Regions from separate parts of the Homo sapiens genome. Here all the other regions are linked to region 1. Evidence: fine-mapped expression QTL. A gene starts in region 1. Each other region holds a variant in brackets. All regions are shown on one strand. Distances are from middle to middle.

Evidence for each region.
Region 2: its variant is fine-mapped to the expression of RPS6KA2 in whole blood (GTEx, PIP above 0.99).
Region 3: its variant is fine-mapped to the expression of RPS6KA2 in whole blood (TOPMed, PIP 0.96).
Region 4: its variant is fine-mapped to the expression of RPS6KA2 in whole blood (TOPMed, PIP above 0.99). The same link has a PIP of 0.9 or more in T cells and follicular helper T cells.

Annotation. Positions count from the first base shown.
Region 1 is chr6:166,624,680-166,629,679 of GRCh38, reverse strand. RPS6KA2 (ribosomal protein S6 kinase A2) reads left to right here and starts at 2,429. Exons shown (of 21, transcript NM_021135.6): 1 at 2,429-2,759. The coding sequence starts at 2,661. RefSeq lists silencers at 1,670-1,729, 1,980-2,149, 2,210-2,559.
Region 2 is chr6:166,678,683-166,686,608 of GRCh38, reverse strand. It overlaps a transcript of RPS6KA2 not described here. Among named protein-coding and RNA genes, the nearest start is that of RPS6KA2, 55 kb to the right of the region's middle. The variant C/T (reference allele first, on the strand shown) is at 5,367.
Region 3 is chr6:166,538,480-166,546,623 of GRCh38, reverse strand. It overlaps RPS6KA2 (ribosomal protein S6 kinase A2), which reads left to right. Exons shown (of 21, transcript NM_021135.6): 2 at 7,840-7,956. Among named protein-coding and RNA genes, the nearest start is that of MIR1913, 33 kb to the right of the region's middle. RefSeq lists enhancers at 2,426-3,346, 3,694-4,294, 4,465-4,684, 5,275-5,394. The variant T/C (reference allele first, on the strand shown) is at 4,528.
Region 4 is chr6:166,859,070-166,867,213 of GRCh38, reverse strand. It overlaps a transcript of RPS6KA2 not described here. Among named protein-coding and RNA genes, the nearest start is that of RPS6KA2-AS1, 41 kb to the left of the region's middle. RefSeq lists a silencer at 4,072-4,381. The variant T/C (reference allele first, on the strand shown) is at 4,661.

The DNA.
Region 1 (5,000 bases):
TATCAAGTTCACTTTCTTTTCTGGTATTTGGTAAGGATAATTTGGATTTCGGTTACAGTGGGTCTTGATATTATACCTACCCTAGATTTAGTGGTTTTGGAGGATTTCATTACATAATCACATGAAGTAGTGTTCCATGATCACTAGAGATTTTGGTATACGTGTATTTTACCAGGAGAAAAACAAAGGCAAACAGATTTATTGTTCTAGCAATGAATTCCAGTGAAATCTGAATGATTTTCCCTCCCAAGTTCAACAGAACAGTTTTGTTGCCTTCAAATTTGGGGAACTAATGAATGTCCCATGAAATATTTCCTTTCCAATTTTGTCAGATCAGGTCAAAATACTATTGTTGGTACAACACAAGCCTTGACTTAGGCCTGCCTGCCTTGGGGCTTTTGTCCTGAACAGGATGCCCATGAGTTGGTATAGGTGGCATTCAGCACTCCTGTCTCCGGCCAGTATTACTGGCTCCCCTTCCGAGGGAAGCATGGTCGGGTTGGTCCTCCCTCATTCCCGGAGTCTGTGTCCAGTTGGAGGTCCATCTACCTCTTCCCGTGCTGGGTACAGAGTGTCTTTGTGTTTGCCTAGAGCCAGGATGCCTGAGGGTCCCAGCAGGGATACAGGGCACTAAGAGGCTGGTTCTGAGAGCACAGATTACTACCCTCCCAGCAGAACCTTAAAGGAAGCAGGCAAAGCAGTTTTCATGGGCACTTAACTGGCACACCATCTTGAAAAGGAGCAAAAAGTGGTGTTTGGTGTCCTTGTGGGGTCCTGCACTTCTGTTTTTAAAGAATAGTCATTATAGATCCTTTAATACATAATATGAAAATCAATTGCACTATTTAAATTCACAAAGCACTCCCACATCCGTGATCTTGCATAAGCCTCTTGGTATCCAGTAAGGGAGGTGAGACAGGTTTCACTCGTATTTTCCTCTTAGAGATGAGTCGTGGGAACAACGTGCAACGGCACCCAAGTTCACCAAGCAAGGAAGGGGCAGCGCCAGAGTCGTGGTGCTAAACTCCCGGCTTCCACTCCGGAGCAGCACCGCTCAACGCGGGTCTCCAGGAAACCCAGAGAGCCTATCTGACCTCACCTCAGCCCGGATGCAGCATGACTTTAAAGCTCTTATTTAAGGACATTCTGACCTCTCTACCCACCTTAGCCAAAATAGACTACACAAGTATTAACGCAACATCTGACTAGTCCAGGGAGCAAAACAACGCGAGGATTTTGCAGTTCGCACTGCAAAAGAGCAAGCAAGACTTGTCAACTCACCACCGCACTCGTTTCTGCTCTTTGCAGGTGGTGATGGTGCTATGTCAATGGGCTCGGTTTCTCCCTGTTTTTAAATACAAACTCAACACGTGCACAAGAGGAAAACAGAGCAGGCTGCACGGGGTCGTGAGCCCGCATTCTCGGCCCTGCTGCAGCCCTTGGTGAGCATTTCTAGGAAAAAAAAGAAAAAAGTGTTTCCCTTTAAGGCGGATCCCGAGCGGCGCTGCCGCCAGCAGCGGGTCTGAGGGCCTTGCCCTAGACCCAGGTCACCCCGCCCGGGTATTCCCAGCGCGGGCCCTGATAAGCCATCTGTGTAGACGTTTCCTAGAGCGGGACCGGCTGCGGAGGGCGGATGCGTCTTTGTTCTGCAGCCGCGGGAGGGAGGCGCCCCGAGGGCTGCCTGAGCCCCCGCCCTCGGGCGCCTTTGTCCGCTCCGGCGGAGGGAAGGCGCCGGTTCCGCGGAGGGCGGCTCCTGGCCGAGCTGCAGGGCCCGCTGGCAGGCGGCGGTCCCTCGCTCGCTGTGCCGCTGAGGTTTTGGCTGCGTTTGCTGATCAACAATTAAAGTTTGGTTCGGCAGAGAAAAACATGATGACAAAGTGTGCATAGGGATGTTTTAAGGAAGGAAAACATAATGACGGCCCCAAGCTGGAAGAAAGAGCAGCCGGGCCGAAGTTGCGTGACAGGAACGCCCGCGACTGCGCGGCTCCGGAGCAGCTGCACAACTCGCCCGGGCCGGGAGCTGTCCCGGGCCGAGGCTCATTAGGTATGCGGCGGCTGCGGGCACTGATTGGCGGGCAGTGCTGTGGGCGGGGCCGTGGGCGGAACCGCGTGGGGGCGGGGCTGCACGGAGCTGGTTCTTGTAGGAAGGAGTAGAAAGAGGAGGAGGGATGGGCACCTGGAACCACAGGGCGGCGCTGATGATTGGAGGTATCGGCAGAGGCGGGGCTCTCCCGGGCGGGGCGGTGGGCTCTCATTGGCAGTGCTGGTGGTGGGTGGGAACGGGAGGGGTGGTGAGCGCTGATTGGCCGTAGTGGCGGGGCGGGGCGGAGGAGGAGGAGGTGTGCGTGCCGGGGCGCGGAGCGGCGGGCGCTGATTGGTGGTAGTGGTGGTGGGCGTGGTGTAGGCGTGGCGCGTGGCCGGCGCTGGTACTCGCAGGGGAGGCGGAGAAGGAGGCGGAGGGAGCGATTGTGGCCCCGGCCGCGGTGGCCGGCGCGGCCTGCCCTTTGTGACCGCAGCTCGCGCCCCACGCCCCGCGCCCATGGCCGCCGTGCCGGGCTCCCTGGCCACGCGTGCCCGCCCGCGGACCTGAGCCCCGCGCCTGGGATGCCGGGGATGCGCGTCCCCCGGCCCTGCGGCTGCTCCGGGCTGGGCGCGGGGCGATGGACCTGAGCATGAAGAAGTTCGCCGTGCGCAGGTTCTTCTCTGTGTACCTGCGCAGGAAGTCGCGCTCCAAGAGCTCCAGCCTGAGCCGGCTCGAGGTAATGCGGCCGCCCTCGGGGCGCGCAGGTGCCGGGCACTGAGCGGGCCGTGGTCGCCCGAGCCCGCCTCGCCACCCCTGGGTGGACCCCGAGACCCGTCAGGGAGTTCAAGTTACTGGAAAGCTGGTCCGGTTCCGAAAATCGAACCAAACGGCTCCAAACGTTATCGCTGGGACTCCGTAGTAATTGGGCGGTCCGTGGGTCCTCGCGGGGGCAACTCCACCCCCACTGCATTTCCAGCTGGTTTCTCCGCCGCTGGCTGCACGGGGTGTGGGATGGTCCCCTGTGGGCCACAGGGAGCCCCGGGTGAGGAGGGGCTTTCTCTGCAGCTAGACCGCCGAGTGGCGCGGAGCGCTCCGCGGGGGTCCCTCAAAGTCCCGAGTGGAGAAGCCCCCCAGCTCCGCCCTCCGAGGCGCTGATCAGGTGCTGTCTGCCGTGCCCGGCCGGCAGGTTCCACCTTATCTTGTAGCTCATTCGTGCACTTGAAGTCAGTGTAGAATTCACAGAACGGGGAAGAACAGGCAGCAGCACAATCTGCTTAGGCGTCTAAAACGGCGTTCAGGAGTAAAGAGCCTGATGCAATATCCTCGCAGCGCCGAGGCTGATACAGATTCGTCCTGAAAACCCAGAGTACTCCCAAAGCCCTGTCCTTTCTACCTGTCCCGCATCTTGGCATCTTAGAGTTTCCTTGTGGACGGTTCTCTCGTGGTGTGTTTTATTTCAACCATCAAATCTTATTCTCTTATTCCCAGTGTCCAAATCACATTGTTGAATCTATAGATGACAAAACAGTGAAACGTGTTTAAGTGAAAAAGACATGGTGATGGGGAGACTGAGGCTGGGACCCAAAGATTTCGCCTGACACTGTCCCGCCTTTGCCTCAAGGCTGGCACCTGTGGGGTTTTGGTTGGTTTGTTTCAGCTGGAACAATCTCAAATGTTTCATCTTGGTTTTCTTTGTCCCAGCTGCCATGATATTAGACACAGACATGGGTTCTGTAACCATTGAGAGACCTGAGGAATAGACAAAAAAGTAGAAGAGAATTACTTGTTTAAAAAGTTTCTCTTATGGCATCCCTAAATCAGAATTGGAAGTACTAGATAGGATCAGTATGGCCGGTTCCCGAGGGTAAAACACATCTTTCAAACAAAACTGTTAATCCAGTACTGGAGGAGGGCTTGCTTTTAAGTCTAATATTGAAAGAAATGAAGCACACCAGTGAGGCAAATCATTTTCCTGGGACACAGGCACTTAAAAAATCTGAAGTTGACAAGATCAGAAACTCAGAACAGTATTTATCTTTATCCGGATACATGTCTTTGTTTCCTGTTTCATCTCAATGCCAAGTTTATTAGACAACTCCTTGTCTCCTTCCATTTACTGTCTTTGCCAAGAAGAGGTACACGTGTGAGCACACTCCAGGCATTGTTTATGAAGAGCAGCACTAGACACTGGCTGACCAGTGGGAGTTCAGGAATCTGCCTGATTCTGGATACACACGCCTCTGGTGTCACAGGGTTCTGCAAGGAGGGCTGGGCTGCAGGCGTGCCTCCGGAAAGAATACAGTGGGAAACAAGCGGGGGGGGGGGTGGGGGGGTGGTGGGAATAGGAAACGAGGTTTCTTCCATGTAGAAATAAAATTTCTAGAAGTCATACATAAACCATCAGCGATGTAGGAGGTCAAATGGGCTGAAAATACATGTAGTCTAAGAGCAAGTAGTCAATTAGTGCTTCCTGTGTGCCAGATCCCGTACTAGGTGCTGGAGGTCTCACTAAGATGGTCAATAATGGCCGGGCGCAGTGGCTCATGCCTGTAATGCCAGCCCTTTGGGAGCCTAAGGCGGGCGGATTATGAGGTCAGGAGATCGAGACCATTCTGGCCAACATGGAGAAACCCCATCTCTACTAAATATACAAAAATTAGCTGGGCATGGTGGCGCGTGCCTGTAATCCCAGCTGCTCAGGAGGCTGAGGCAGGAGAATCGCTTGAACCAGGGAGTCAGAGGTTGCAGTGAGCCGAGATTGCGCCACTGCACTCCAGCCTGGCGAGAGAGCGAGACTTGTCTCAAAAAAAAAAAGGTCAATGCTAATACAATGCTCTCTTTTTTACAAATGCATTCCCCAGCTTTCTATTATTTGATACTTGTGAAAATCGGGGTAGCATATGTAACTTTCCTCATTCTATTGCTAAGGGGAAGAAACCCTGAGAGTTTGAGAGTCTTGTTAAAAGCTTTCCAAGGA
Region 2 (7,926 bases), 55 kb before region 1:
AATTCGGGGCAGAGAGAGAAGGAAAGCTAAGCCACATGGGCTGCAGGATCAGATGCACTGATGGGCTGGGGCCTGTCAGCAGAAGCCACATGGCCTTGGGTGCAGAGCATGTGTGCTGGCTCCAGAGTATCTGGGAGGTGCTGGTTTGGCATCAGAGGTTTCAGAAGTTCACACCAACCTGCTTGGATTTCAGGGCTTGTTCTGGGTCATTTCACCTCCCTGCATACAAAAAAGCAGAAAAGTTGCTCAGGAGCCCACCAGGTGACATGGAGATAACCCTGGGCCAGAGGGTCCCACAGTAGGAGAGGTCGGGTTGCTTTGCACGGTCTCCACACATCCTTGTTCCCAGTGACAAATCCTCATGCCTGGTGCCCGATATGCACCCTGACTCCTGTTCCTGGCGGCAGGACTCAGCAGGACCGACCTTACATGAGCATAGGATGGCCCTTAGGTCAATGCTGTCCTGATCTCTTCCCATCTCTGTGGGGTAGAACTGGTGTCACTGCCAAATAAGATTCTCGATCCTTCCGTAGGTGTCTGGAAAGGCACCTGGCTTATCCCAGTCATTCGTTCTCATTAGCCCTAAGACCTGAGGCTGTGAATGTAAAGACCTCACAGCTCCTTCGTCTCAGCCCCTTCGTTCGCCCTCTGTCCCCCTCCCTCCTAGGGCATGGGCCCATCGTCCATCACCATGGTGCATTGTCTGCGGGATCACTCGATGGTAGGAGTTAAAAGCAGTGATGTAGATACCATGGAGATAGAGGCACAGACCCAGCTTAGCCGGGGAGCAAGGCAGCAAGGAGGTGGTAGGAGATGTGGTGGGAGAAAGGGCACCAAGTACCTGGCTGTGTGAACCCAGCTTGAACCTCAGTCCTACAAGGCTCTTTGCCATAAGAAACGTGATGCCCATAGAATTGTCGTGAGGGTGAAGAGTGGTGGTGCACGGGGAGGAATTCTTTCAAAAGCTGGGATGCAGTGGGAGCTCAGGAAGAGTCTATGGATTTGAATCCAAGATCTTCCCTAATCCTAGGGAATGAAACTGTACTCCAACAACTCTCAAAGATGCATGGCTATGAATCCATCAGTTCACCTCCATGAAACTAGGGCAGAAAGAAAGTCAGAGGTCTGGGATCCTTGGACTCTTGTCCCGAGTGTCTGAGGGAGGACAAGTGGGATGGACAGTGATAGAAATGGCCAACAGATCATTTTAACCATTGCCCTTCTCAGCCTCTGTCCTCCCAGCCTGCACACACACCCCACACTCCATCAGGGTCCTGCCTGAGCTTTCCTCGGCCTCTGTCCTTCCAGCCTGCACACACACCCCACACTCCATCAGGGTCCTGCCTGAGCTTTCCTCGGCCTCTGTCCTCCCAGCCTGCATACACACTCCACACTCCATCAGGGTCCTGCCTGAGCTTTCCTCGGCCTCTGTCCCCGCAGCCTGCACACCCACCCATACTCCATCAGGGTCATGTCTGAGCTTCCTTGTAGTGCTGAGCTCCGCCCACTGGATGGGGACTTCGAGGTTGGGGTGCTTCCATGGAAGCCGGTTGGCCCTTGCAGGGCTCTGGAGCTACCATCCCGCAGTGACATCTCCCTCTTCCTGCAAGGGCCTCCCTGCAGTGTGGCTCCCAGTACCACGCTCTCTCAAGTAAGGATAGCCTCTTTTAGCTCCTCCTCTGGCACAATGTTTCTTGTTGCTTTTCAGATTTGTAAGACATTCTCTTATTATAAATTGGAAAGAAGGAGAAAGGGCATTTAATTATTAAAAAGTAGGTTCAGAATTTTTCTTAGAAAACAAATCAAGTTGTTCAGGGGGAAGGGTGATAAATGTTCAAGTTGGGAGGTAAAAGCGATGTAGGCTGGAGGTGAGGCTTTCGGGGATGGAGCTGCACTGTGGATACATCCAACGGCATCTGCCGGATTCCTGGGGCCTCTGGGGCAGAGCAGAGGAGGGCAGAGAGCAGGGTGAAGGCTTGAGGATGACTGCACCCGGTGAGACCCCACCTTTGGTCTCTGGTCTTCCTGGTGATGCAGGACAGGTGAGCCTCAAATTGGGGCTTAGCCTTCAAAGGGTCTTGGCTTCACCCAGGAGAGAATTCAAGAGCAAGCAGACGGTAGGGTGGAAGAAAACAGCTGTGTTGAAGCAGCAGTGTTACAGCTCTGTGACTGCTCCTGCAGAGCAGAGTTACCTGCTAGGCAGAAAGTAGCAGCTCAGGGCAGGCCTGCAGTCATATTTATACGCACTTTAAATTACATGTAGATTAAGGGGCAGTTTATGCAGAAATTTCTAGGAAAAGGGCAGTAACTTTTGGGTTGTGGGGTCATTGCTATGAAAAGGGGCGGTAATGCCTGGGGGTTGCCATGGCAATAGTAAACAGACATGGCACACTGATGGGTACATCCCCTGACCTCCGTCCCTGTGTTAGCAGGGTCTCAGTTTGGTCCAGTATCTGAACCCTGCCTCCAGAGTCAAGTCCCGTCTCCTACCTCACTGGGGAGGTTGGGCCCTGTTTTCTGATCTCTGTCCCCAGCTACATCTAGATGACAACACCTCCTTATAGACTCCTCCAGTTATCTTGGGTTCCTACAAGAGCGTGTCTGGGATAGGGTCCAAGATGAACTCCTGCACGGTAGCCCCTTGCTGCTGCCTGGTGAGCTCTGGGTCCTGAGAAGGGAAGGGGAGGTGCCGTGGCTGTTGTAGGCCTGCCTGGGGGCTGGAACCTTAGGGACCACAGCTGCCGAACACCCCAAGGACCTCTCGCTAGCTGCTCTCTCCTGTATCTCCAGGCTGTCCCAGCCTCACCCACCATGTGGTCGGACGAGATTCAGCTACCAGCGTATCAGCGGTGGAGTGAGGCCCTGGATGCGAAAAGCTCCAGATGTGTTTCCCTTCTGTGTTCTCAGTCTGATGTGCTCTGACATATTTGCGCCTACCTAGTTATCCAGAGACATTGATTTCCTTGGCGGGGAAGCACGTTGGGAAAAGGAACATTTACTGATTAATGGAAGGAAATATTTGAGTCACACATTGTCCTTAGATGAATCATTGATTTATTCCCAGTAAAATCTGACTTATTTAAATGGCCACACAAGTAACTAATAAAGTAATTTAAAATCATAATTTAAACTAATGAGATACTTTAAAAACATATTTCTAGGTCTCTAGAGTGGAAGGAATGTGGTCTGTAGATTATAATTGATCATGGGGAGCAAACACTTTGCTTCCTGTTTACTCACTGCTTGCTTGGAAATACATTGGTACATTTCTGGCTCTTGCCAAAATGTAACTCTGAGTTAGGAGAGCATCACTTCATGTAATTGATAAAGTTAAAACTTTGTGCACTTTTGGACATCTGCAATATGCAATACTCTCCAACACAGAGGCACACGTAGGTATGAGTTGTCGTGGAAATGCATGTGTTTCCATGGTTAAGGGCTTGCCCCTGCCCTGTAGAAAGAGTCATGTTGCATGTTGTGACCCCTGAGCAGCGCTTGGATCTTCTCCCACAGAAGCACAGCTGCCAGCTGTGGTCTCAGGCTGGGCTTCACCGAGGGCAAGCGGCGAGACCCATCTGACGTCCATCAGCTGGTAGGCCTTCCCCTAGTTTCTCGTTGCATTTCTTCATTCATGCCTTCACTTACCTACTTCATTCATGCCTTCAACTCATTGGTTTGGGTCTAAGGAATGTGGTTATAAAGCTGGAACCCACATGATCACCTGGCCTTTGAGAAGAAACAGAGAAGGGGAAAAAGGGCTTAGGATGTGGTCAAATGCATGGGTTGTCTCTTTACTGAGGTAGGTGGTGGTCATAGGGCGCTCTGAGGACAGGCAGTAGGGCTGTTATTTTGCTGGGTGTGGGGAGACAGGTTCCATTTCATGGTTTCCGATGAATGAGCTTGTCCCGGCTATGAAGCAATCCTTGCTTTCTTTGTGTCGTTGTTGCTAGTGTTTATCTCCACACTCCCACCCAGTTTTCTTCTTGGGATTCCACTTATTCGACAGCTAATTATGGAGTCCCTCCTCCCTCTCACTCTGTTCTAGACCCTGGAGTTCAGCAGTAAACCTGACATGTTGGCCCTGCCCTCGGAGCTTGCTCCCTGCCCCTGCCTTTCCCCAGGGCTGTCTCACCCTCTCTATGCTTCCCCTGTGCTGCCCACACCGGACCCCACCTGTGGGCATTCTAGGCTCCGATGAAGTAGGGAAAAGACACTCCCCATGGCTCTGGATTTATGATGTAAGCCAAACGTGGATACTGAGCCAGACACGGAGCAGTGACTTTCCATTTTCCTACGACACCTCAATACCAATGTTTTATTAAATTGAAAGGACTAAAAACAACTAAGTGACGCATGAGTCTTTATTTTTAATTGAGCTTTTATGTTCCTCAATTCATTAATGAAGAAGAAAAGGAGAAAGCTGGTACATTTTATTGCCTGTAATTTTCAAGCGGAAGTTTATTCTGAAACATATTTCAACATCACATTCCTTGGGTAAATTGCCTGTAGCTTAAACATAACAGCAGCATCTCAAAACCCTCAGAACTCTACTTACGAATGAACCAGATTTTACTATTAATACATTGGTTAGGCCAGTTTTCTTTGTATATTCTTGCTGGGCATCAGAAGACTTAAACCTAAGCTGTCTGTCATCTCTGCGGGAGAACAGTGCGGTGGTGGGTGGTGTCGAGACTCACAGAAGGAGCCGATCAAGGGATCTCGGCAGGAGCTGCTGGTGGACAAGGCATTCCCAGCAGAGGACAGGAAAAGTTGGTGGCATTAACATTCTAGGCACCTGCTGCAGGTGTCAGGCCCCAGCCCTGGGCCACAAGGGTCAAACAAGGGTCAAGACAGGACTTTTCATCTCTGGGAGACAGGCCACCAAGAGCAAGATCTTGGGCGGGGGCGGGGGGGGGGGCGGGCAGGGGGAGATCCAGGGAGAGGCCTGGTCCTGTGAGCTGGAATCACAAAAGGAAGGAACTGGGACACGGGAATCACCAGGAACAGTTTTCCCTTCGGGGCACAGAATCCTGGTGCAACTTGCAGGGAGAGAGCTCAGCCTTCCTGGGGCCACCGATCAGCACTGGTCACACTGGTCAGCCGTGGCTGCAGGTGTCAGAGAGGAATTAGGGGTAGGAGATGCCGTGTGGAGGGTGCAGATAAGAAACTTGGACCTTATGTCAAGACGGAATCTAGAAGAAGGGCGTGGTTTCCAGTGGAGCAATGAGTTGGTTTATAATTTTGCATCCTAGGCCATTGGCTATGCCTCGTATTTTTCTTGGGAAATAAGCATCATTTGTATCAGGAAATGGTACAAGTCCATTGTGCAACCCACTTCTTTTTGTCGTGGGGTATGGCATCTATTT[C/T]TTAAGCTCAGAAAATTTCTAAGATACAGTGTTGTAACCTGCAGTTTTGGTACATCCTTCCTTGCATTTTCTAAACGCAGTGGGGTGGACACGTTGTGGCTAGATCTGTGCTCTGGCGCTGCCTCTCTGCCCTTTCCACCTTCTCCAATTTTCCCTGCTTTCTGTGCTTCACTAGGGAACAAAGCCTGATTCAGAGCAGAAGGGGTGAGAAGATATGGGAGAGACAAGCGGCTGCTGTTAAAAAAGAGCAGTCCTCACTCGATACGCCAAACAGGTCCCTCACAGGCCTTTCCAGAGTCAAAAATGGGAGGAGAGGGGCAGCAAGGCTGAAACTTTTCCGATTCTGCATCTGACTGAAGTTTGAACTGTGCCTCTGGCCTCAGCAAGTCTCCTTTTGTGTCCAGAATTGGTGGGTTCTCGGTCTCCCTGACTTCAAGAATGAAGCCACAGACCCTAGTGATGAGTGTTACAGTTCTTAAAGATGGTATGTCTGGAGCTTGTTCCTTCAGATGTTCAGATATGTCCAGAATTTTTTCCTTCTGGTGGGTTCATGGTCTCGCTGACTTTAGGAATGAAGCTGCAAACCTTCACAGTGAGTGTTACAGTTCATAAGGTTGGCACGTCCAGAGTTGTTCGTCCCTCCTGGCGGGCTCGTGCTGTCACTGGCTTCAGGAGTGAAGCTGCAAACCTTCGTGGAGATGTTACAGTTCACAAAAGCGGCACAGACCCAAAAAGTGGGCACCAGCAAGATTTACTACAAAGAGCAAAAAAACAAACCTTCCACAACGTGGAAGGGGACCAGAGCAGGTAGGTCTCCTGGCTGGGGCGGCCTGCTTTTATTCCCTTATCTGGCCCCACCCACATCCTGCTGATTGGTCCATTTTACAGAGAGCTGATTGGTCCATTTTACAGAGCTGATTGGTCCGTTTTACAGAGAGCTGATTGGTCAGTTTTGACAGAGTGCTGATTGGTGTGTTTACGAACCTTTAGCTAGACACAGAGTGCTGATTGGTGTGTTTACAATCCTTTAGTTAGACACAAAAGTTCTCCAAGTCCCCACCAGATTAGCTAGACACAGAGTGCTGATTGGTGCGTTTACATACCTTTAGCTAAACAAGTGCTGATTGGCACGTTTACAAACCGTTAGCTAGACACAGAGTGCTGATTGGTGCGTTTACAAACCTTTAGCTAGACACAGAGTGCTGACTGGTGGGTTTACAATCCTTTAGCTAGACAGAAAAATTCTCCAAGTCCCCACCCATCCCAGAAGCCCAGCTGGCTTCACCTCTCACTGGCACTGCCGAGGGACTTTGCGGCACCTAGTCCAGGTACTCCTGCAGCCCAGAGGGAGCTCGTCCCCCATCAAGCCCAGCAGGCGCTGGCCAACCGCGCTGAGTGCGGGGCTTGCCGAGCCGCGCTCACCTGGAACCCGCGCCAGCCAGTGAGCACCACTCGCAACCCCAGCTCCCGCCCGCGCCGCTCCCTCCACACCTCCCCACCAGCAGAGAGAGCCGGCTCCGGCCTCGGCCAGCCCCAGAGATGGGCCCCCACAGCACAGCAGCGGGCTGAAGGGCTCCTCGAGCGCGGCCAGATCGAGGAGCGCCGCCAGGTTGAGGAGGTGCCGAGAGCGAGCCAGGGCTGCTAGCACGTTGTTACCTCTCACTTTCACGTTCAAGCTCTTTTTGGCTATGTCCTACACATTATCCTTCATCTCATGTTTTCTAGATTTGCACTGGCAAAAATAAGTGACAATATTTATTTATTATTATTATTATTATTGAGATGGAGTCTCACTCTGTTGCCCAGGCTGGAGTGCAGTGGTGTGATCTCAGCTCACTGAAACCTCCACCTCCCAGGTTCAAGTGATTCTTCTGCCTCAGCCTCCTGAATAGCTGTGATTACAGGCACCCGCCACCATGCCTGGCTAATTTTTGTATTTTTTTTTTTTTTAAAGAGAGTTGGGGTTTTGCCATCTTGGCCAGGCTGGTCTCGAACTCCTGACCTCAGGTGATCCACCCGCCTCAGTCTCCCAAAGTGCTGGGATTATAGGCATGAGCCACCACGCCCGGTGACAATATTTATTATTTTTTTGTTGTGACTTAAAAAGCAACATCTCCTACTGAATAGCCTTTCTGTTCACAGTTTCTTTCTCCAAACTTACTATTTAGTTCTGTTAGTGCTGGTAATTGGTCAACCAGGTTTTGTAACGTGAACTAAATCCTATAGAATTAATATTACTTGTAAACAAATACGGTTTTATCTACTAATGACCATGATCAAAAAAAGTCATACTCAAATTTATCTGGGGAACAGATATCTAAATACACACTATTTCTAGAGTTTTTAAATCCTTTTGCCAAATTTTAGAAATTCATCTGTGGTCAAAAAATACCTGCTTTGCGGTTGAGAGCCCAGCCCCATGAAGCACAGGGGGCTCAAGGCGCAGCAGAAATGCGGGGGATCGAGACTTCAGAGGCCACGTTTTGAGCCCCCTTTCTTTGTCGCTTGCCAGCCATGGTTGGACAAAGGTCACCACCTGGCCTTTCTCACCCCACCTTGC
Region 3 (8,144 bases), 85 kb after region 1:
GTTTTCTTGGTTATACTGATGATGTAGTTTATGATGATGTAGGTTTTTCCACTTGTGATTTTAAATCCCGTGTTATCAGTTTTCTCTCATCTCTTAGTGCAGTTTCATACTATATATCTCAGAGACAAAAAAAAAAAAAAAGTTTTCCCAGTCAGGGTGACACACTAGCATAAATAATGTCCCATTGGGTGCACACCAGGCATGCGTCCTGGTATCACTGTCACCGGGTTTTTACCTGGCGTTATTTTAAAGTTGTGCTAAATAATACAGATGTATTCAGCCCCTTTGGGCACTCATCCCACTGCCCAGACCGGAAATGGTCCCATCTAAAGCTGTTCCACGAGGAAACACTGTGGCTTGACCTAATCTGCATTCGTGTTCCACCTGCCCCGAGTGTGAGGCTTCTCGGAGATCGTTCCTGTGCATCTTAATACACTCATGTCAGTCAGTAGCTACCGTCTCATTCCCCGATGCTAGTAATGAGTCTTTATAAAGCAAATCATTGAAGATAATTTTCAAGATGAAGTGGAAGGGGTCACGGAGCCATACCTAAAACACCGTGTCAGACACCAACACCCCAGGCTTCCGTGAGGACTTCACACTGACGTTTCCCAGGGAGGTTAAGGATTGGAGGATTTATCAGAATGAGCACACCGACAGAATGGCCGATGTCAGGACTGGGAGCCCATGTGTGTGCAGGAAGCCCTGGCTCTCCACTCTTTGCACGTCTTTTCTGTGGGAAGGAGGCCCCTGCAAAAGTGGCGGCGCTCCATCTGTCAGTCACCGTTTATAAGCACAACTTTCAGAGTCCAATTTGCCTTGACTGTGATTTATAAAAATACCAGCAGACTGAGGGCTGAGAAGAAGGGAAGAGAAAATAATCCACGGGAACAACAGGCAATGAAGGCGAAGGCAGAAACAGTGGCGAAGTGGCAGGGCTTAATTAAAACCAGAGAGGAAACATCCTTGGGAGGTTCCTCTCTCCTCAGTCACTAAAATGAACAGGGACGGGGTGGGGAGGCAGAAAGGCAAGTTTGGATAGAAAGAGAAAAAAAAGGAGAGAAATGCCAAGGCTGGTTTTGCTGCTTCTCCTCCTTTCTTCCCATAGTCTCTGTCCACTCAGTGCTGCTGTGTTCTAGGAACCTTACATTAGCCCAGCCTCAGTTCCGAGGAGCTTCAGTGAGTAGCTTAACGGAGACTTCTCCCCAAAGAGGAAAGGAGCCCGAGCAGCCAGCCCACTCCTAGATTGTCACTGTGCATGCGGTGACTGCAGTGACCACTCTTGGAAGCTAAATCACTTTCATTGGTCAGAAAAAGAAAAAGTGATATTCTAGGATGGATGAGAAAACAGAGCCCAGCCCTGTTCCTGCACATTGCTTTCCCTCCGCGGATTCTGCGGCATCCATTTGAGCATTGTATCGAATAGATGCAGTTCAAACTCTGAAAATGACCAGGGTTGAAATGGAGACCTTGTCTCGCTGAGCAGCCCTCTATCAAGTAGATAGGCTCACACTCCTGAAATTTCAGAGCTTCTATCTGCGATCTTGACATGGCACCCGGTATTTTCCTTTCTCTTTCCTTCTCCTGCTTCCCTTCCTCCTATGATTTTGTAGCAGATTTATTCATCTTAAATTAAGCCATCTTTGTTTCACCTAGATTCCAGCAAGCGCCCATGTCACCAGCCTGATTTCCATTCTTGAGGGTACTCGTTCTGCTGTACTAAATGGCTCACTTATATTTAGCTTTTTAGAAATGGAAGGGAAACTTGTTGTAGAAATGGTTTCCTAAGGAATTGATTGGACAAATGCAGCTGGTCCCATCATTTCATTTCACATTTGCTCACACCAGCAAAAGCAGACACATTTGCGGAGATGCAGAAAGGGCAGTTTAAAGGGCAGAGAAGGCCCCAGAGTTCGCGAGCCGTTACCACTCTAAACGTCCTAGGCCCTGGTTGGAATGGAAGCAGCTTTGCCAGGAGCATGGGTCCTGGGCCTCAGATGATCTGAATTCTCGTCCCTTGAATAGTAAGATGCCCAACCTGCTACATGGGAGGTTCCTTCTGGTTCTTAAGAGTCTTTGGTTCAAATGTCTAGTTATTTTTATTTCGTTTTAGTAATTACAAAAACGGCCTACTGGAGGATTTTTGTCATGGGTGGCATGTGTTCACTGGTGCAGCCAGCTTTCCTGGTAACCAAAGGCCGAGGACCCACGAGCTATCAGGAGTCGTGCCGCAGATGGAGCTCGCTCTCCGGGGGCTGTTCCTGCACAGACTCCCCTCTACTCTTCTCAGCAAGTCTGCGGCTGTCTTTCTTTTCCGGAAGAGGCTAAAAAGCCATTTAGTGAATCTTCTCTCCCTTTAAAAGCATTCCTGAGCTTCCATTCTAGCGGCGTGGTAGACTACATGTGGCTAGCCCTCATGTGAAATACAACCGAAAGTCCTGGATCAAGTATCCCTTTAAGAATGTTTAAAAGTGTGAGTGAGCTGGGGAGTAAGGAATACGCAGAGGCCAAACCCTGTGTTAGAGCAGGGAACCCAAGGAAGGAGACAGTTAAAGCCAGCTTTCTCCTGGAGGCCAGGTGACAACCTGGTGAATTTGAGCTTGGCTGTTTACAGCCTCACAGGGCAGGGGAACTGGTGACAAATCCCAGGGCTGGCCCCAGGCAGACCTCTTGCCCCACTTCCTGCATAAAGCTGGGACTTTAAGGAGCTCCATCCCAATGTGAGAAAAAGCCAGAACAAGACCTGTCTCACACACACTCACGTATGTGCATTCCACATGTACACATGCGCACACACACGTGCACACACTCAGGACAGTTGCCTGTGATGGATGGGCCTCTAGAACTGGACCTCTGGGAGCAGCCCCTGCTGGAGATTGAGATTTGAGAGTTGTCAGTGTTTATTCACATGGTTTATAAAGCCCGGAGACAGGACGAGGTTCCAAGGGGGTAACTACATGGAGACAAAAGGCCAGGGACTGTGCCCAGGGGAAAGGTGACCTTGGCAGACACAGAAAGAGGGGGAGGTGGGAGCGAACCCAGGGGAGTAGGATGTACTGGAATCCAGGTGAAGAGAGTGTTTCAAGTGAGAGGGAGTGAATAGCCATGCCCAGTGCTATGGAGGATGGAAATTTAGCCACTCGATTTAGCAATGGGTAAGATTTGGATGGCTTGAGAAGGGCACCTTTGGTGAGATAATGAAAGTCAGATTCTAGACGAAGCCAAGTTTAGAGATTCCAGACCAAGAAGGCCTTGCCCAGGGCCTGGAATCTGCATTTTAACAAGTTCCTTGGGGTGATTCTGAAGCAGGTGGGCAACATAGAACATTCATACGTTCAGAACCTCCAGGACACGATACTGTTCCTGGGCAGGTGTGTCCGGGTTCTGTGCCTTGAGAGAATGACTTGCGATGTGGTACTCTGTCATTAAGCGTTTATATGATGCCAGCCTCTTTGTCACCTGGGATTCAGGAGGGACTCCACCAAAGCTGCCCTCAAAGCCAGGCTCTTGTCCACCTGCTCATGAGTTCATGCCGTCAGCAGCAGAACAGTGCTGGCTTGATGGGACCTGTGAGTTGGAGATACGTTCTTTTCCACATTTTCATAAACCACCTGTGTAATAATATATTCTGTTATTATTCTGGAAATTAATATCCTACATGTGAATCTGCGATTTATAGAATGACCTCTCTCCTTTTTTGGAAATGAGGTGAACCCTTGCCTATTTTGTTTCCTATGTCCTTATCATTAATATTCCACAACTTTTAATTTGCACTTTTTATAAATATTATCCCTTTAATGACATGAAGAGCAGGTGATTCAGAGCAGAGGAAATGACCTAAGAAGGCGACTTTGGCCCAGAGAGAGGCATGCAGAGCCAGTGGCCAACCGCCCTCATCTTTCTCCCTGTCACTCCCACTTCCCAGCCGCTCCCAGCAGCTGCTGAAATACCTGCCCGGGACTTCCTGCAGTCATTGGAATTTTGAGTGCAGTTCTGCAGGAATTTTAAAAATTCCTTGTCACAATTTGTCACATTCAAACATCATTTAAACAGTTTATACCTCTAGTTTTTCTTTCTTACGTTACAAAATGTTTGGAATTGTTGCTTATGGAGCTAGCACCTGATCACCGTCCCAGCTCCTCCTCCCAAAGCTCTCAAGTTAGCTTTAAAAATACTGTTTACAGTAGCTGTGCTGGAAACCACATGCTCCTGCCATGGATGCAGCCGATTCAGGAACAGACTTGATCTTCCTAAGGCATTGCATGCAAATCCTCATCAAGCTCTAGATAAAATTACCTGCTTCATAAAACAGAAAAGGCACATATTTCAAAATGAAATGTGAGTAACATTTTCATGCTAGTTGCCCCTTAGGGTGGTTGTCATGAAGGGATCCAGAAACCAGGGCTGTCCAGAGAGGGTCGTTATCAGCAGTGCCCGGGAGTATGGTGCTGGGGCTTCATCTGGCTGTTTCCTATTCACACAGACCCCAGAGTGCGCGCCGAGTCCATGGAACACCAGATCTTTGTT[T/C]GTTTTGTTTTGTTTTCGTTTTGGGGAAAGTGAAAAAGAAAGTTAAGCATCCTCCAGCAAGTTCAAGCTAAAATGTCACTGTGAAGGCAGAACTCTGAAGTCTGAAAGGTGATGCTCTTGGGGATTTTTTTCCATTGACGCCTCAGATGCTTTGCGGTTAAAAACCTTACTGATTTGAAATGAGAAGTGAACTCTATCGCAATATTATTAGGGAAGAAAGCTGGCGTTTTTCATGTCATTTTAGGAGATGAAATTATGTGTGTACTTCAGGTACATTTGCTCTCAATACTTTGACAGAAAGAATCTGCACAAAATTTGAAATGTTATGAGATATCTGCGTCGAAGGCTTTGATTCGAAACGTTACAGAAATGACTAAAGAAGGTGAACTTCTGCAACGGAGGTGGGGGTGTGGCATGGACCGGGGAGGCGGGAGGCAACAGGGGATGGCAATTTGGAAGTGCTGAGGAAGGCGTGAAGCCAGCCTAAAAAACGGGCTGACTGGGAGCAGGGGAACACCCATGGGAATTCTGAGGTGCCAGCGTCCATGGCCAGGTGGCATCCAAGTAGCCCGGATGCTGTCACTCTCGCTTCAGAGCCTAGTCCCACAAAGGCATGTCCCACAAAGGCAGTGAAGGGGACCAGGACCCATGGGACTGCATGAGCTCATTCACCACAGCTGTGGGTCTCAGACCCTCCACAAAGAGCTGCTGAAGAAAAAGGAAGGAACTGGAAATCTTTAGGAAACATACACAAGGGCTGGGAAACGTGCCCCAGGAAAGGGTGGTGGCTGCAGTGTGAAGCCTCCCTGGCCAGCTCGTGCCTCGCCTGCCCCACACCTCTGGGCGGTGTTGAATTTTACTTTCTGTTCTGCAGTGTGGCCGTTGCCATGCTCTCGTTACCAAAATGAAGTCACAGAAGGGTGTGCTTTGGTGGTGATTCCTTTTTTCATAGTGTGGGCGTCGCATTAACACAGCTGCATGATGGGAGCTATTTTGGGAGGGAGGCTGGGGTTTGGATGACTCATGCGCGTGCTAGTCCTGTAGGTAGAGGATGTTAATGGACCCATTGCGAGGACAGTGTTTTAGTAACAGAAGAGGAGTATTTTGTTGTTCTTTAAATGACAAATCGTCTGCAATTTCTTTCTTCCTTTCGTAGGTCAATGACGGGAAAAGATAGCATACATGTTTCCATGATGAATTTTTTTGAACTTGGGCTCCTGCCTTTGTTTTTTGTGCAGGAAGCCACCTCCAGCAGCCGCGTGGAAGGTAGTGGTTCTCACAGGCAGTGACACACGTGGATCCCTGAGGGCCTCATTTTTTTCTGTCCCTTTCCATAAACCAGGAGATTTCACCACAAAAGCTGCACAGTCTCGGGTGGCTAGCATGGTCCTGCAATTCTAGTAAGCCTGTGCTGTGAAGGGAGGAAGGGCTTAAAATGTGATGTCCCCTCACAAATTAGCATCTAAATATAATGCCCATTGGCTGGGCTGTGCCTCTAGCATTTTTACTTACTCATTCAAGAAGTAATTATGAAGCAACAAAATTGTAATTCTGTATCTTCCAACTGCACTCATATGAACTTCAGGATGGATTAAACAGAGTCAATTTTGGCTATACTCATTGTTTTCCCAAACAAACAAAAAAAAACCACTGTTTTTACAAAAATAGCAAATCATCCTTGAAGATATGGAGACGAAAGTGTTTCCTTTAACTGAGAATGGAAAAGCCATGGATAACTGCATAGGCCTCTAATCCGCTGTGAGTTTCCACGGCTCAGACACCTTATCTGCTTTTACATGTGCCTCTATTTGTGACATGGAGGTAAAATAGCAAGATTTATAAGTAACCGTTTTGAGAAACTGAATTTTTCAAACATCGTCATGTACGTTATTGCTATTGTGATTTCATTTGGAAGTCTTCACTCTTAGAGTAAAACAGAGGGTGGAAGTACTTGGCTTCGAAGTCAGTCCTTGATGAGAAGCCCACCTCTATCACTTCCAGCTATTAATGTGTAATCTGAGTCTCAGGAGAAAATCTCCACTTCACAGTTTCTTCATGAAAAGAAGCAATGAGGAATGAGAGGCCCCTGGTTCCCAGAGCACACTATGCATACAATTCCTGGTTGCTGTTTTTGGATGCGCATTTTAGCCAGCAGTTTCTGAAGTTTTTCAGCCCCTCACCCCGAGCTAAAACTGTAGAAAGGGGTGTACGAATGTATAGATAGTGGAACAGAAATCTCAGAGAAATGCAGAGATAAATTCAAGGAACAGTTGGGCTCGAATGTCTCATGTTGGGAGAAACACCTCCTTTCCAGTGTTCCATTTCCAGGGCCTGGCACTTGGGCAGATGGCCTACCCCTTTACAAGGGAAGTCATGTGACTCTGGGGACAGGAAGCTCTGGGATGAAAATTTGTAGTGTTTTCTGTCAGTGTTTTCACTTATAGACTCTTTCTCCTACAGGGAAATCTTGCTTTCTGGGCTGGTGGCAAATCTTACCTGACTGCTTCTTCTGAAATATAATCTATAGGATGGCAATGACGTGTTCTTTACATTAGCTTTGACAAACATACCAGGGATAGCGTGAATCAGAAGGAGAAGGAGGACAAGCCGTCTGCATTTTCCAGACCACTTCTCCATCTAGGAACCCGTCAATATGCTTTTGCTGTCATTTTGTTCCATAGTTGCTATATTCATCGTACCAGAACTTCTGCCCAGACTGTTAAAGAGCAGAATGGATTTCATTGAGAGTACCCTTAGATTTTTCGGAGGCCTTGGTAAGACCAAATGACAAAAGTCCATGGAGAAAAGAAACCATGAAGGCCCACAGGGTGCACACAATAACCACACACATCACCAAGTTGATTCCATAAAACTAAATGGGCCGGGCGGGGTGGCTCACGCCTGTAACCCCAGCACTTTGGGAGGCCGAGGCAGGTGGATCGCGAGGTCAGGAGATCGAGACCATCCTGGCCAACATGGTGAAATCTCGTCTCTATTAAAAATACAAAAATACAAAAATTAGGTGGGCATGGTGGCAGGAGGCTGAGGCAAGAGAATCACTTGAACCTGGGAGGTGGAGGTTGCAGTGAGCCGAGATCCAGCCACTGCACTCCAGCCTGGGAGACAGAGTGAGACTCCGTCTTAAGAAAAAAAAAAGAAAAAAACACAACTAAATGGTGTCTCCACTTTCAAACTCCAGCGCTAAAATCTGTAACAGACCCAGCTCGTGGTAAACTCAGGGGAGGAGGAAGCTGTGAGCGGCTCTGAGGGACTCCTCGCGGTGTGTTTCTCACCCGTGCCGCTCTCTTGCAGGAAGAAGGCGTCGTGAAGGAGATAGACATCAGCCATCATGTGAAGGAGGGCTTTGAGAAGGCAGATCCTTCCCAGTTTGAGCTGCTGAAGGTTTTAGGACAAGGATCCTATGGAAAGGTAAGTTCAGCCCTGGCTGTCTCTTGAGTCTCATTCCTGAACACAAAGGACACCTGGACAGAGCCCCCCTGGATGAAAATTGCAGGCGGTCCTCACCTGCAGGGCTGCGATCACGGGAACCTGGACAGTTCAGAACCGGGGTCTCACTTTGCACAGCCAGAATTCCAGTGGCACAGGGCTGGGCTGTG
Region 4 (8,144 bases), 240 kb before region 1:
AGCTGTGGCCTTAGGGCACTGTTGGATTTGCTGTTGTGTGCTCACCTCATCCCCCAGCTGGTATGTTAGTCGGCTTCCGTGCTGCCATCACAAAGTATCACCAGCTGAGTGGCCAAAACAACAGAATATGATTGCCTCCCAGTTCTGAAGGCCCAAAGTCTGAGGTCAAGGTGTGAGCAGGGTCGCACGCCCCCTGAAGGTGTCCGGAAGGGGTCTGTGCGGGCTCTTTCTCAGCTTCTGGGAGAGCTCCCAGTTCCTCAGCTCGTGGCAGCAGAGCTCCAGCGTCCCAGTGCTGTTCTGCTGTGTGCATGTCTGTGTTCAAATCTCCCCATTTTATGAGATCACATAAAGCCCACTCCACTCCAGCATGACCTCACCTTAACCAGCTACTTCTGCAGGGACCCTGCTTCCATGGAAGGTCACATTTGGAGGTAGTGGGAGTTAGGGCCTCCACACAGGAATCTGGGAGGTAGAGGGACATGGCCCAGCCCGTGACAATGGGTCACATGCATTTTTGTTAAAATTTAAATAAATTTGGTTTTAAGTTTTTTGGAGAATTTTGTGAAACTCCGGAGAGTGAAAATACCAAAGCTGGTGACCATGTCACTGGAAATTAGTAACTGTTGTTTTTTTTTGAGACAGAGTCTTGCTCTGTCACCCAGGCTGGATAGCAGTGGCACAATGGCACAATCATGGCTCACTGCAGCCTCAAACCATCCTCCCATCTCAGCCTCCCGAGTAGTTGGGACTACAGGCATGTGCCACCATGCCTGGCTATTTTAAAAAAATTTTATTCTTAGTAGGGACAGGGTCTCACTGTGTTGCCAAGGCTGGTTTCAAACTCCTGGGCTTAAGTGATCCTACTGCCTCGGCCTTCCAAAGTGCTGAGATTACAGGTGTGAGCCACTGCATCTGGACACTGTTTTCATTTTTACTAAATCTTTCATCCATCTCAAAATGTACAATATTGCAAAACGGAACAGCCCAGAATAAAACATTTGGGTCTTTTAAAAATGTCCGTCGGATTCAGTGTGGAGGTCAAGCACGTCTGTCCATCAGAAAACTTGGATTTCTTTGGGCCTTTTCTCTCAGATCACGAAACACATTTCGTTGCTGTGTATTCTGTGAGTCAGGCCGTGGCAGCCCCCTCTGTGGGGAAACTGAGCTACAGAAGATAGCTATTAGTAGCAGAAGTGGGACCAGGACCAGATTCCTGATTCAGCTTTTCTTTGGTTGTCAGAAATCCGTGGAATGGATAAGCTCTCTCCATCCCTCCTTCCCTCCCCTTCTCCATCCGTCTTTCCTTCCTAAGAGAAAAGAGACACTTTAAGATTGAAGAGGCAATGAACACAGAGGAGTGCTCTTCCTTCGTTGGAGCAAGAGAGTAATTTTCACTTGGGGCTGGGTCTCAGTGAGTTTCATGCCAGCTCATCCATCTCATCTCACAATGGCTGTGACTTGGGACACTTAAAATACTTCCCATTGCTTTTCTTTTGCAGAGTTTGGTTCATTAAGGACCCATTTTCAGCAAGGCTGCTTCAACAGTTCTTCTTAGAAATTGATGCTTTGGAGGTGAATATCTCAGAAATAGCTTTTTCAGGTGGTGTTCTGTTGAAAGTGTTGTTCAGGCCGGGCCGAATGACTCAAGCCTGTAATCCCAGCACTCTGGGAGGCCGAAGCCGGCAGATTGCCTGAGTTCAAGAGTTTGAGACCAGCCGGGGCAACATGGCAAAACCCTGTCTCTACAGAAAACACACGCACACACAAAAATGAGTGGTGTGGTGGTATGCGCCTGTGGTCCTAGCTACTTGGGAGGCTAGGGTGGATCTCTTGAGCCCAGGAAGTCGAGAAGGCAGTAAGCTGAGATCGTGCCACTACACTACAGTCTGGGTGACAAAGTGACACCCTGTCTCAAAAAAAAGAAAGAAAGAAAAAGATTGTTCAAGTTTTCTTGGGATTTATTTGAACATTTTAATTCCAACGCATCTAATTTCCTGGGTTCTTTATTTGAATCTTTATCTTCGTAGGTATTTAAATGTAATCATTATTTCCTTTCAGAAAAATTATTCCTTCTTACCTCTAATTGTTTACCTTTCCCAACACAAACTTTATAAGTGGGGCTGTTTTCCCAGATCAATATCACCTTTTGAAGATTTCAGTTTGTTGCATTTTATTTTGTTTTATTTTCTGGCTGTTTCCAGGTCCCCTTCCCCAGTGTCTGGCACACCTGGTACTGCATCTTGGTGGGCAGCAGCCCTGGGAGTGCCTTGCATGTAAAAAGCTGATGGAAAGGAACCCATCCGGGAGGTTTCTGCTTTGGGAGGACCCCGTAGGTGTTTTACAAGGCAGCAGTGCAGGGAGTAAGTGTGGGAATTCCAGCCCAGAGCCCTGGCCACATGAACTCTCGTCTCACTCCCTGGTGATCGCTTCATCTCTCCAGGCTCTCTGCTTGCCTGTGAGATGCCCAAATAATGTGCAGTCTGTTGATTAGTGTCATATTTGCATAGTTAAAAAAAACACCATGCTAAATTATGAGCCACATTTTCAGCAATTCCTAAGATACCCCTTAAAATGAGCTCTTTTTTGCTAGGGACTCTGGCAGGCTGTTCACCCATGGCCTCCCAGGAGCTGGGCTTCCCTCAAGTTTCCTAGGACACACTGCCAATCACAAGACAGCCCGTCCAAAGGACTTTTCCTCCCTCATATAAAGGACCTCTATTTCCTTCTTCCACAACAGAGCACTTGTGGAAACTTCCAGAAGCTGGAGTCTTTGTAAATACACAGTAAAGAATCTGAGTTCATTTCTTTCCCATTGCCTTCAGGAGTCCACATTTTTACCATCAGATTAAAGATTCTTGACATCTCTTCACTGTCTTTTATGAGTGACTCTCCTAGCTTTTTTACAGAAAAACCAAAAACCATTTTTTTTTTTTTGAGACAGAGTCTCGCGCTGTTGCCCAGGCTGGAGTGCAGTGGCGTGATCTCCGCTCACTGCAACTTCCGCCCCCTGGGTTAAAGCAATTCCCCTGCCTCAGCGTCCCTAGTAGCTGGGGTTACAGGCATGCGATACCACGCCCGGCTAAGTTTGTATTTTTAGTAGAGACGGGGTTTCACCGTGTTGGCCAGGCTGGTCTCGAACTCCCGCCTCAGGTGATCCGCCCGCCTTGGCCTCCCAAAGTGCTGGGATTACAGGCATGAGCCACCACCCTGGCTTTGTCTGTTTTTAATCTGTGACCTTTTACAGCATGTACAAAATCACCTTATGATTGTTAACACAAGAAAACCTTCACTCTGCTCTGTCAATCACAGAATCTCCAATTTGAAAACGAACAATATTGCTATTTTTAAAATTCTGAATGCAATTGATTTTAAAGGTCCTTCTGGCCTAATTTTGTAGAAAGATAAAGTGACTGTCATAAATCAACACCAAGTACAGAACCCCTCTGTTAACTTTGGACTCTACTTTGCTATGAGATACAAAGTATCTGGGATTTGGGTTTTTCTTTTTTTCCAGTGAATTGAATTTCTTAGTGATTGCATAAAGTCGAAAAAGAAAAAGGGATTGATAATTTTGGAGAACATTAAGCTATTTTTAAAAAGATATTTCTCTCAAAGATAAAGGAATTTGCTATAGAAATGAATACACTTACTCCCAAAGCAGCATTAAATTGTGTTAACTTTAACACCCTTTCCTAAAAGAGGGAACCATAATGCTTCAGGATTAGCACTTGGACGATTGGAGAAATGAATATGTCTTTCACCCGCACGCACCTTTCATTATCCAGGACAGAAGGGAGTAAGGAGGGAGGCAAGAGAGATCCCCCCACTCCACAACCCAAAAAAGGGAAACAGGGAGGGGAATTTTCCCCTGGTTCCTTTCCAAGGAGCGGTGGCCCAGGAGGCCTTGCTCTCCCGCAGGCGCCTGGCTGTGTCTTCGGGGGTTCCTTCTCTGAGCCTCAGGACTTTGTCACCTGTGAAATAGGACGGGGTGGAGACCTGAAGGAGCTGAGGGGCAGGATACACGTTGTTTGAATTAATGTTTCTGTCCCTCGGGCCCTGCCACTGGGAGCCCCAGCGGCCCACGTGCCTTTCATCCTGGCCCGCAGAGGCCTGAGTGCTGTTTCGGGCAGCTCCGGGCAGGGCTGGGTAGGGCCCAGCGGACCCCACGGGCCGCCCCCCCCCGCCTCTCCCCAGCTATTTGTCTGTCGTCCCTCTTCGTCCCTCTTCTCCTGAGGTGCTGTCCCGGCCCTCGGGGCGGGGGCAGCCGCGGGCAGCTCAGTCCGCAGCGCTTCCAGAGGTGCCCGAGTCTCCTGAACGCTCCGCAGGAAAGCAGCTGTGCTGCGTGGAGCCCTCCCCTCGTCCCGGTCCCTCCGTCCGTGTTCCTGTCCCTCCCGTTCTGCGGCGGGAGGTGGCGGTGTGGGTCTCCGGGGAGGCGCGGCGGGCTGGGGAGGTGGGGAAGGGTGTGCGCGTGCTGGGGGTGGGGGGGAAAGACCTGCCGCCCCCCCCCCCCGCCTCCCCAGCCCTTGGTTGCTATGCAGTTTCTATGGCAGCGGCATCCTCAGACTCAACTTTCACCCTCGTTTAGAGCCAATTAAGGTAAAATAGTGAGGGGAGGAGGGAAGAGCGTGGCCAGGGAAGGGAGGGGGGAGAGGCAGGAAAT[T/C]CAATTCGAAGCTGCAAGTGCAGCGTTTACTCTGCCAAAGTCGCAGTACAGATTCCGAAGCCGCAGCGCCGTCCCCTCCTTTCCTCGCCCCAGCCCGAGCGGGAAGCGGCAGCAGCTCCCCAGAGCCCTGGCTTGGCAGGGAGGGGACGGCGCCCGAGCAGCCATATTGCAGCCCCCCGGGTCCCTCCTCCGGCCGGCGCAGGCCCCGCGCTCACGACCTCCTCTGGGAGCCGGATCTGTCCTCTCCATCGCCGCCACCCGCCGGCCTCTGCGTCCCTTGGCTTCCGACATCCCGTCTGGCCGTCCCCCTGTGCCGGTCCGAGCCTCTGTTTATTTCCTTTCCTACTATCAATACTCGACCAGCAGAAAAGGAAAGTTTAAAAATGCCAATCGCACAGTTGCTGGAACTATGGAAAAAGATCGAGGTGGAGCCTATGGAAATAGAGGTGAGTGCAGGAGAGAACGCACTTTTCACAGCATCCTCAAGAATCCGAACTCTGCAGCCAATGCATTGCTCATTTACTATAATCAGTTCATGTCCATTAGGTGACTATGATGGGTCAGAGAGTTGGCTATCCAGTGTGTGTGGATGTATATGTTGCGTTGTGTATGCACATGGATAAACATTGCGTGTGTATACACGCACGGCATTGTGTGTGGTGTAAATACATAAATGATAATGAGTACAAGAAACAAATTGTTGCCCTTAAGGAAACTTCAGGATGCTTCTTAAAGTCTATGTAAGTCTTAAAGTATTCCCGTTTCCAAACTAATCTGCATCAGTTTGATTTTCCTTCAACAAGTGGCTTTAAATTAGAAGCCTTCCATTTGCTACAGTGAAAGATGAAACCAGAAGGCAAAAATCAATGATGAATCAAGGAACAGAGAGCATAAAGATAATGTGATCTTAAACGAAAAAAGATAATGCAACCTTAAAAGGATGAATGGTCAGATAAAGAGGTGTGATTAAAGATAAACAGAAAAGATAATGAAATCAAAGTGTTCCTTGCCCGTCCCAGGGCTGGTGGGTGTGCAGGAATCACTGCTGAGAGTTTTTCACTCCATGCTTCCCTGGGGACACGCAAACCTCTGCTCCACGGAATCTGATTTGCTCCATTTGAATTGGAGATGGTCAACATACATTTTCCTAGAAGAGAAAGTTCCCCAAATTTATTAACGTCTACTAAATTATTAGATATACCTGTTCTGTGTTTATAGCAACTCAAATGGCATTTAAACATGGCTCATTTGTAATCACTCACCAAACCTCCTCAAAGTCCAATTTAATTTTTGCCTATCTCCTACTCCCAGCACTGTACTTATAAATTCAATGCTATTTTAAATTTTATTTATTCTTATATGTACGTCTTGAGATAGTCACATAACATACCTTTGAACTGAATGAGAGATTCTGTTTTAGAAGAGAATTTACTGAATGCTTCATATTGAATAGTTTTCTTGGAAAGCCAAGCTAAATAATGCTCGACATATGTATTGATGTTTAGCAGAGACTGTTGGGCATAGCACGGACATTGAAGTCCATTTGTTTTAGATGGAACAGCCCAGATACTGCTGCTCATGGAAAGTACCTGGGGTGGGAGAAGGATGACACCAGGGCTCCCTACTGTTACTGATTCTTCTGTTTGTACATGGGGTTGTTCTTGGTGTTGAGGATGGTGCCTTGGAAAGATCCATTCCCTTACTGCGGTTGCCATTTCAAGTCTACTTTTTTTGAGAGAGAGAGAGATTCAATTTTTCTAAATATTGAATTAGTGAACGAGCAAGTGATCAGCTAGAAGTTCTTTTCTCATTTACTAGTGCTTCCTATAGCCCAGCTGGTCATCGTCAGCACATTGGCTTGTGCTGAAGCTGTAAGGTGCTCAGCCCTCACGAATGAAGGGCTTGTCCAGAGGGAGGATTCCGCCCTGGGCTCAGAAAGGATGGGAGAGAGGGGGCCAGGGGCTTTACAATTCCAGGTGGGACCCTGGTCTTTACATTATTTCCAGTGACCAAAGCCATGAGGAGCAGCTTGTGTTTCACATATTTCTCAAATCGCTCATAAATGGATCAGCAATGAATAGATTCCCATGATTTGAAAACCATGCCATGAGCCTAGAAAGCACTTGCAAGTGGCAAGAATTTGGAGCCGAGTTGACTGATGGTCTGCCCTGCCTTGCCAGCCCCAGGAGAGGGCAGATGGTAAAGGTTTTGAGGAAAATTGGATACATTAAATAGCTCTTGAAGCAAAATAAATTTTTTTCAGGCTTCTTAGCTGAATTTTTTCAGGAGAGCACAGCTGGTGGAGTATGGACAGTGTTAAATTCCTATTTACTTGGAACCCAGAAAACCAGAGTTCTTTCTATAGAAAAATGAAAGCTTAAATATTAACCATGAGGTACTTCAAGTTTCTGAGGAAATTTCCAAATCCACAAAATCCTCTGTGTTTTGGAATTCACAGTCTGAATTTCCTCTCTAGTTTTGTCCATGTTTTATGTTGCATGGTATTAAAATAACTCACATATCAAGAAATGTGGCAGAGCTATATGGAGCATATCTGGCCTCTGAACTCCAAGTTAAATGCCCTAAAACCCTTGCAGGAGGAGCCTGCATGCTTTTCTCATCGGAAAATCTGCTAAGAGATTTTAGTGCTTATTTTTTAGTGATTTAGTTTAGATTTTATTGCTTTAGTTCCTTGCTGTTATGCAAATGTGACAGGACTGATGATTGGATTTCCAGGGACTAGAATCAGCATTCCTGGATTCATGTTTTGCTCTAACCACCTTTTCAAGCTGCTATCCTTTCTGGCCTGTTTTCTCATCTGTAGTCTGAGAGAACCGAACTGAACTGGGTCTGAGGTCCATTGTACTAGAGAACACTAAATACAGTTTATAAAAATTGTAGACCAGGGGAGATTCATCTGACTGTCCAGGGAAAGTCTTTGTGGTTCTCTGTGTTGTTCTGAGATATTTCAGATATATAATTAACCCATAAATGGGTGTGTTGACAAGGCAACGTGCTCATTAAGAGCCAGAACCTCCAGAAAACCCCGGCAGAATCTAGCATGAAAAAGAAACATGTAGTATTTCATGAATTATGTTCTGGCAAGTTGAAGGCACATCTCAAACACAGGACTTTTCAATCATTGCTTTCAGCGGGGTTACAGCAGCCAAGGGCGTGCTTTGGGGGCAAGATAAGAAAATGGGAGAAATGATGAGTAAGGCAAGTCCATAAGCCAGCCCACAAGGTCTGGCTGACCCATTTTATTTGTGTTCTCTTGGAGGAATAAGCATGATTTTTCTCTCTGGGATGTCATAATACATTAGATAGAGAAAGAGAAAGCTCCGTTTTTAAACAATGCAGATCAAACATGATTCCCTGAAGATTCATAGTCAAGCTTGGATAGAGATGATTATCTCCTGGCTACTAGGTGAGAAGATGAAACTAGAAATAGTAATAATGACAGCAGTTCACTTTGCGTGTCTGC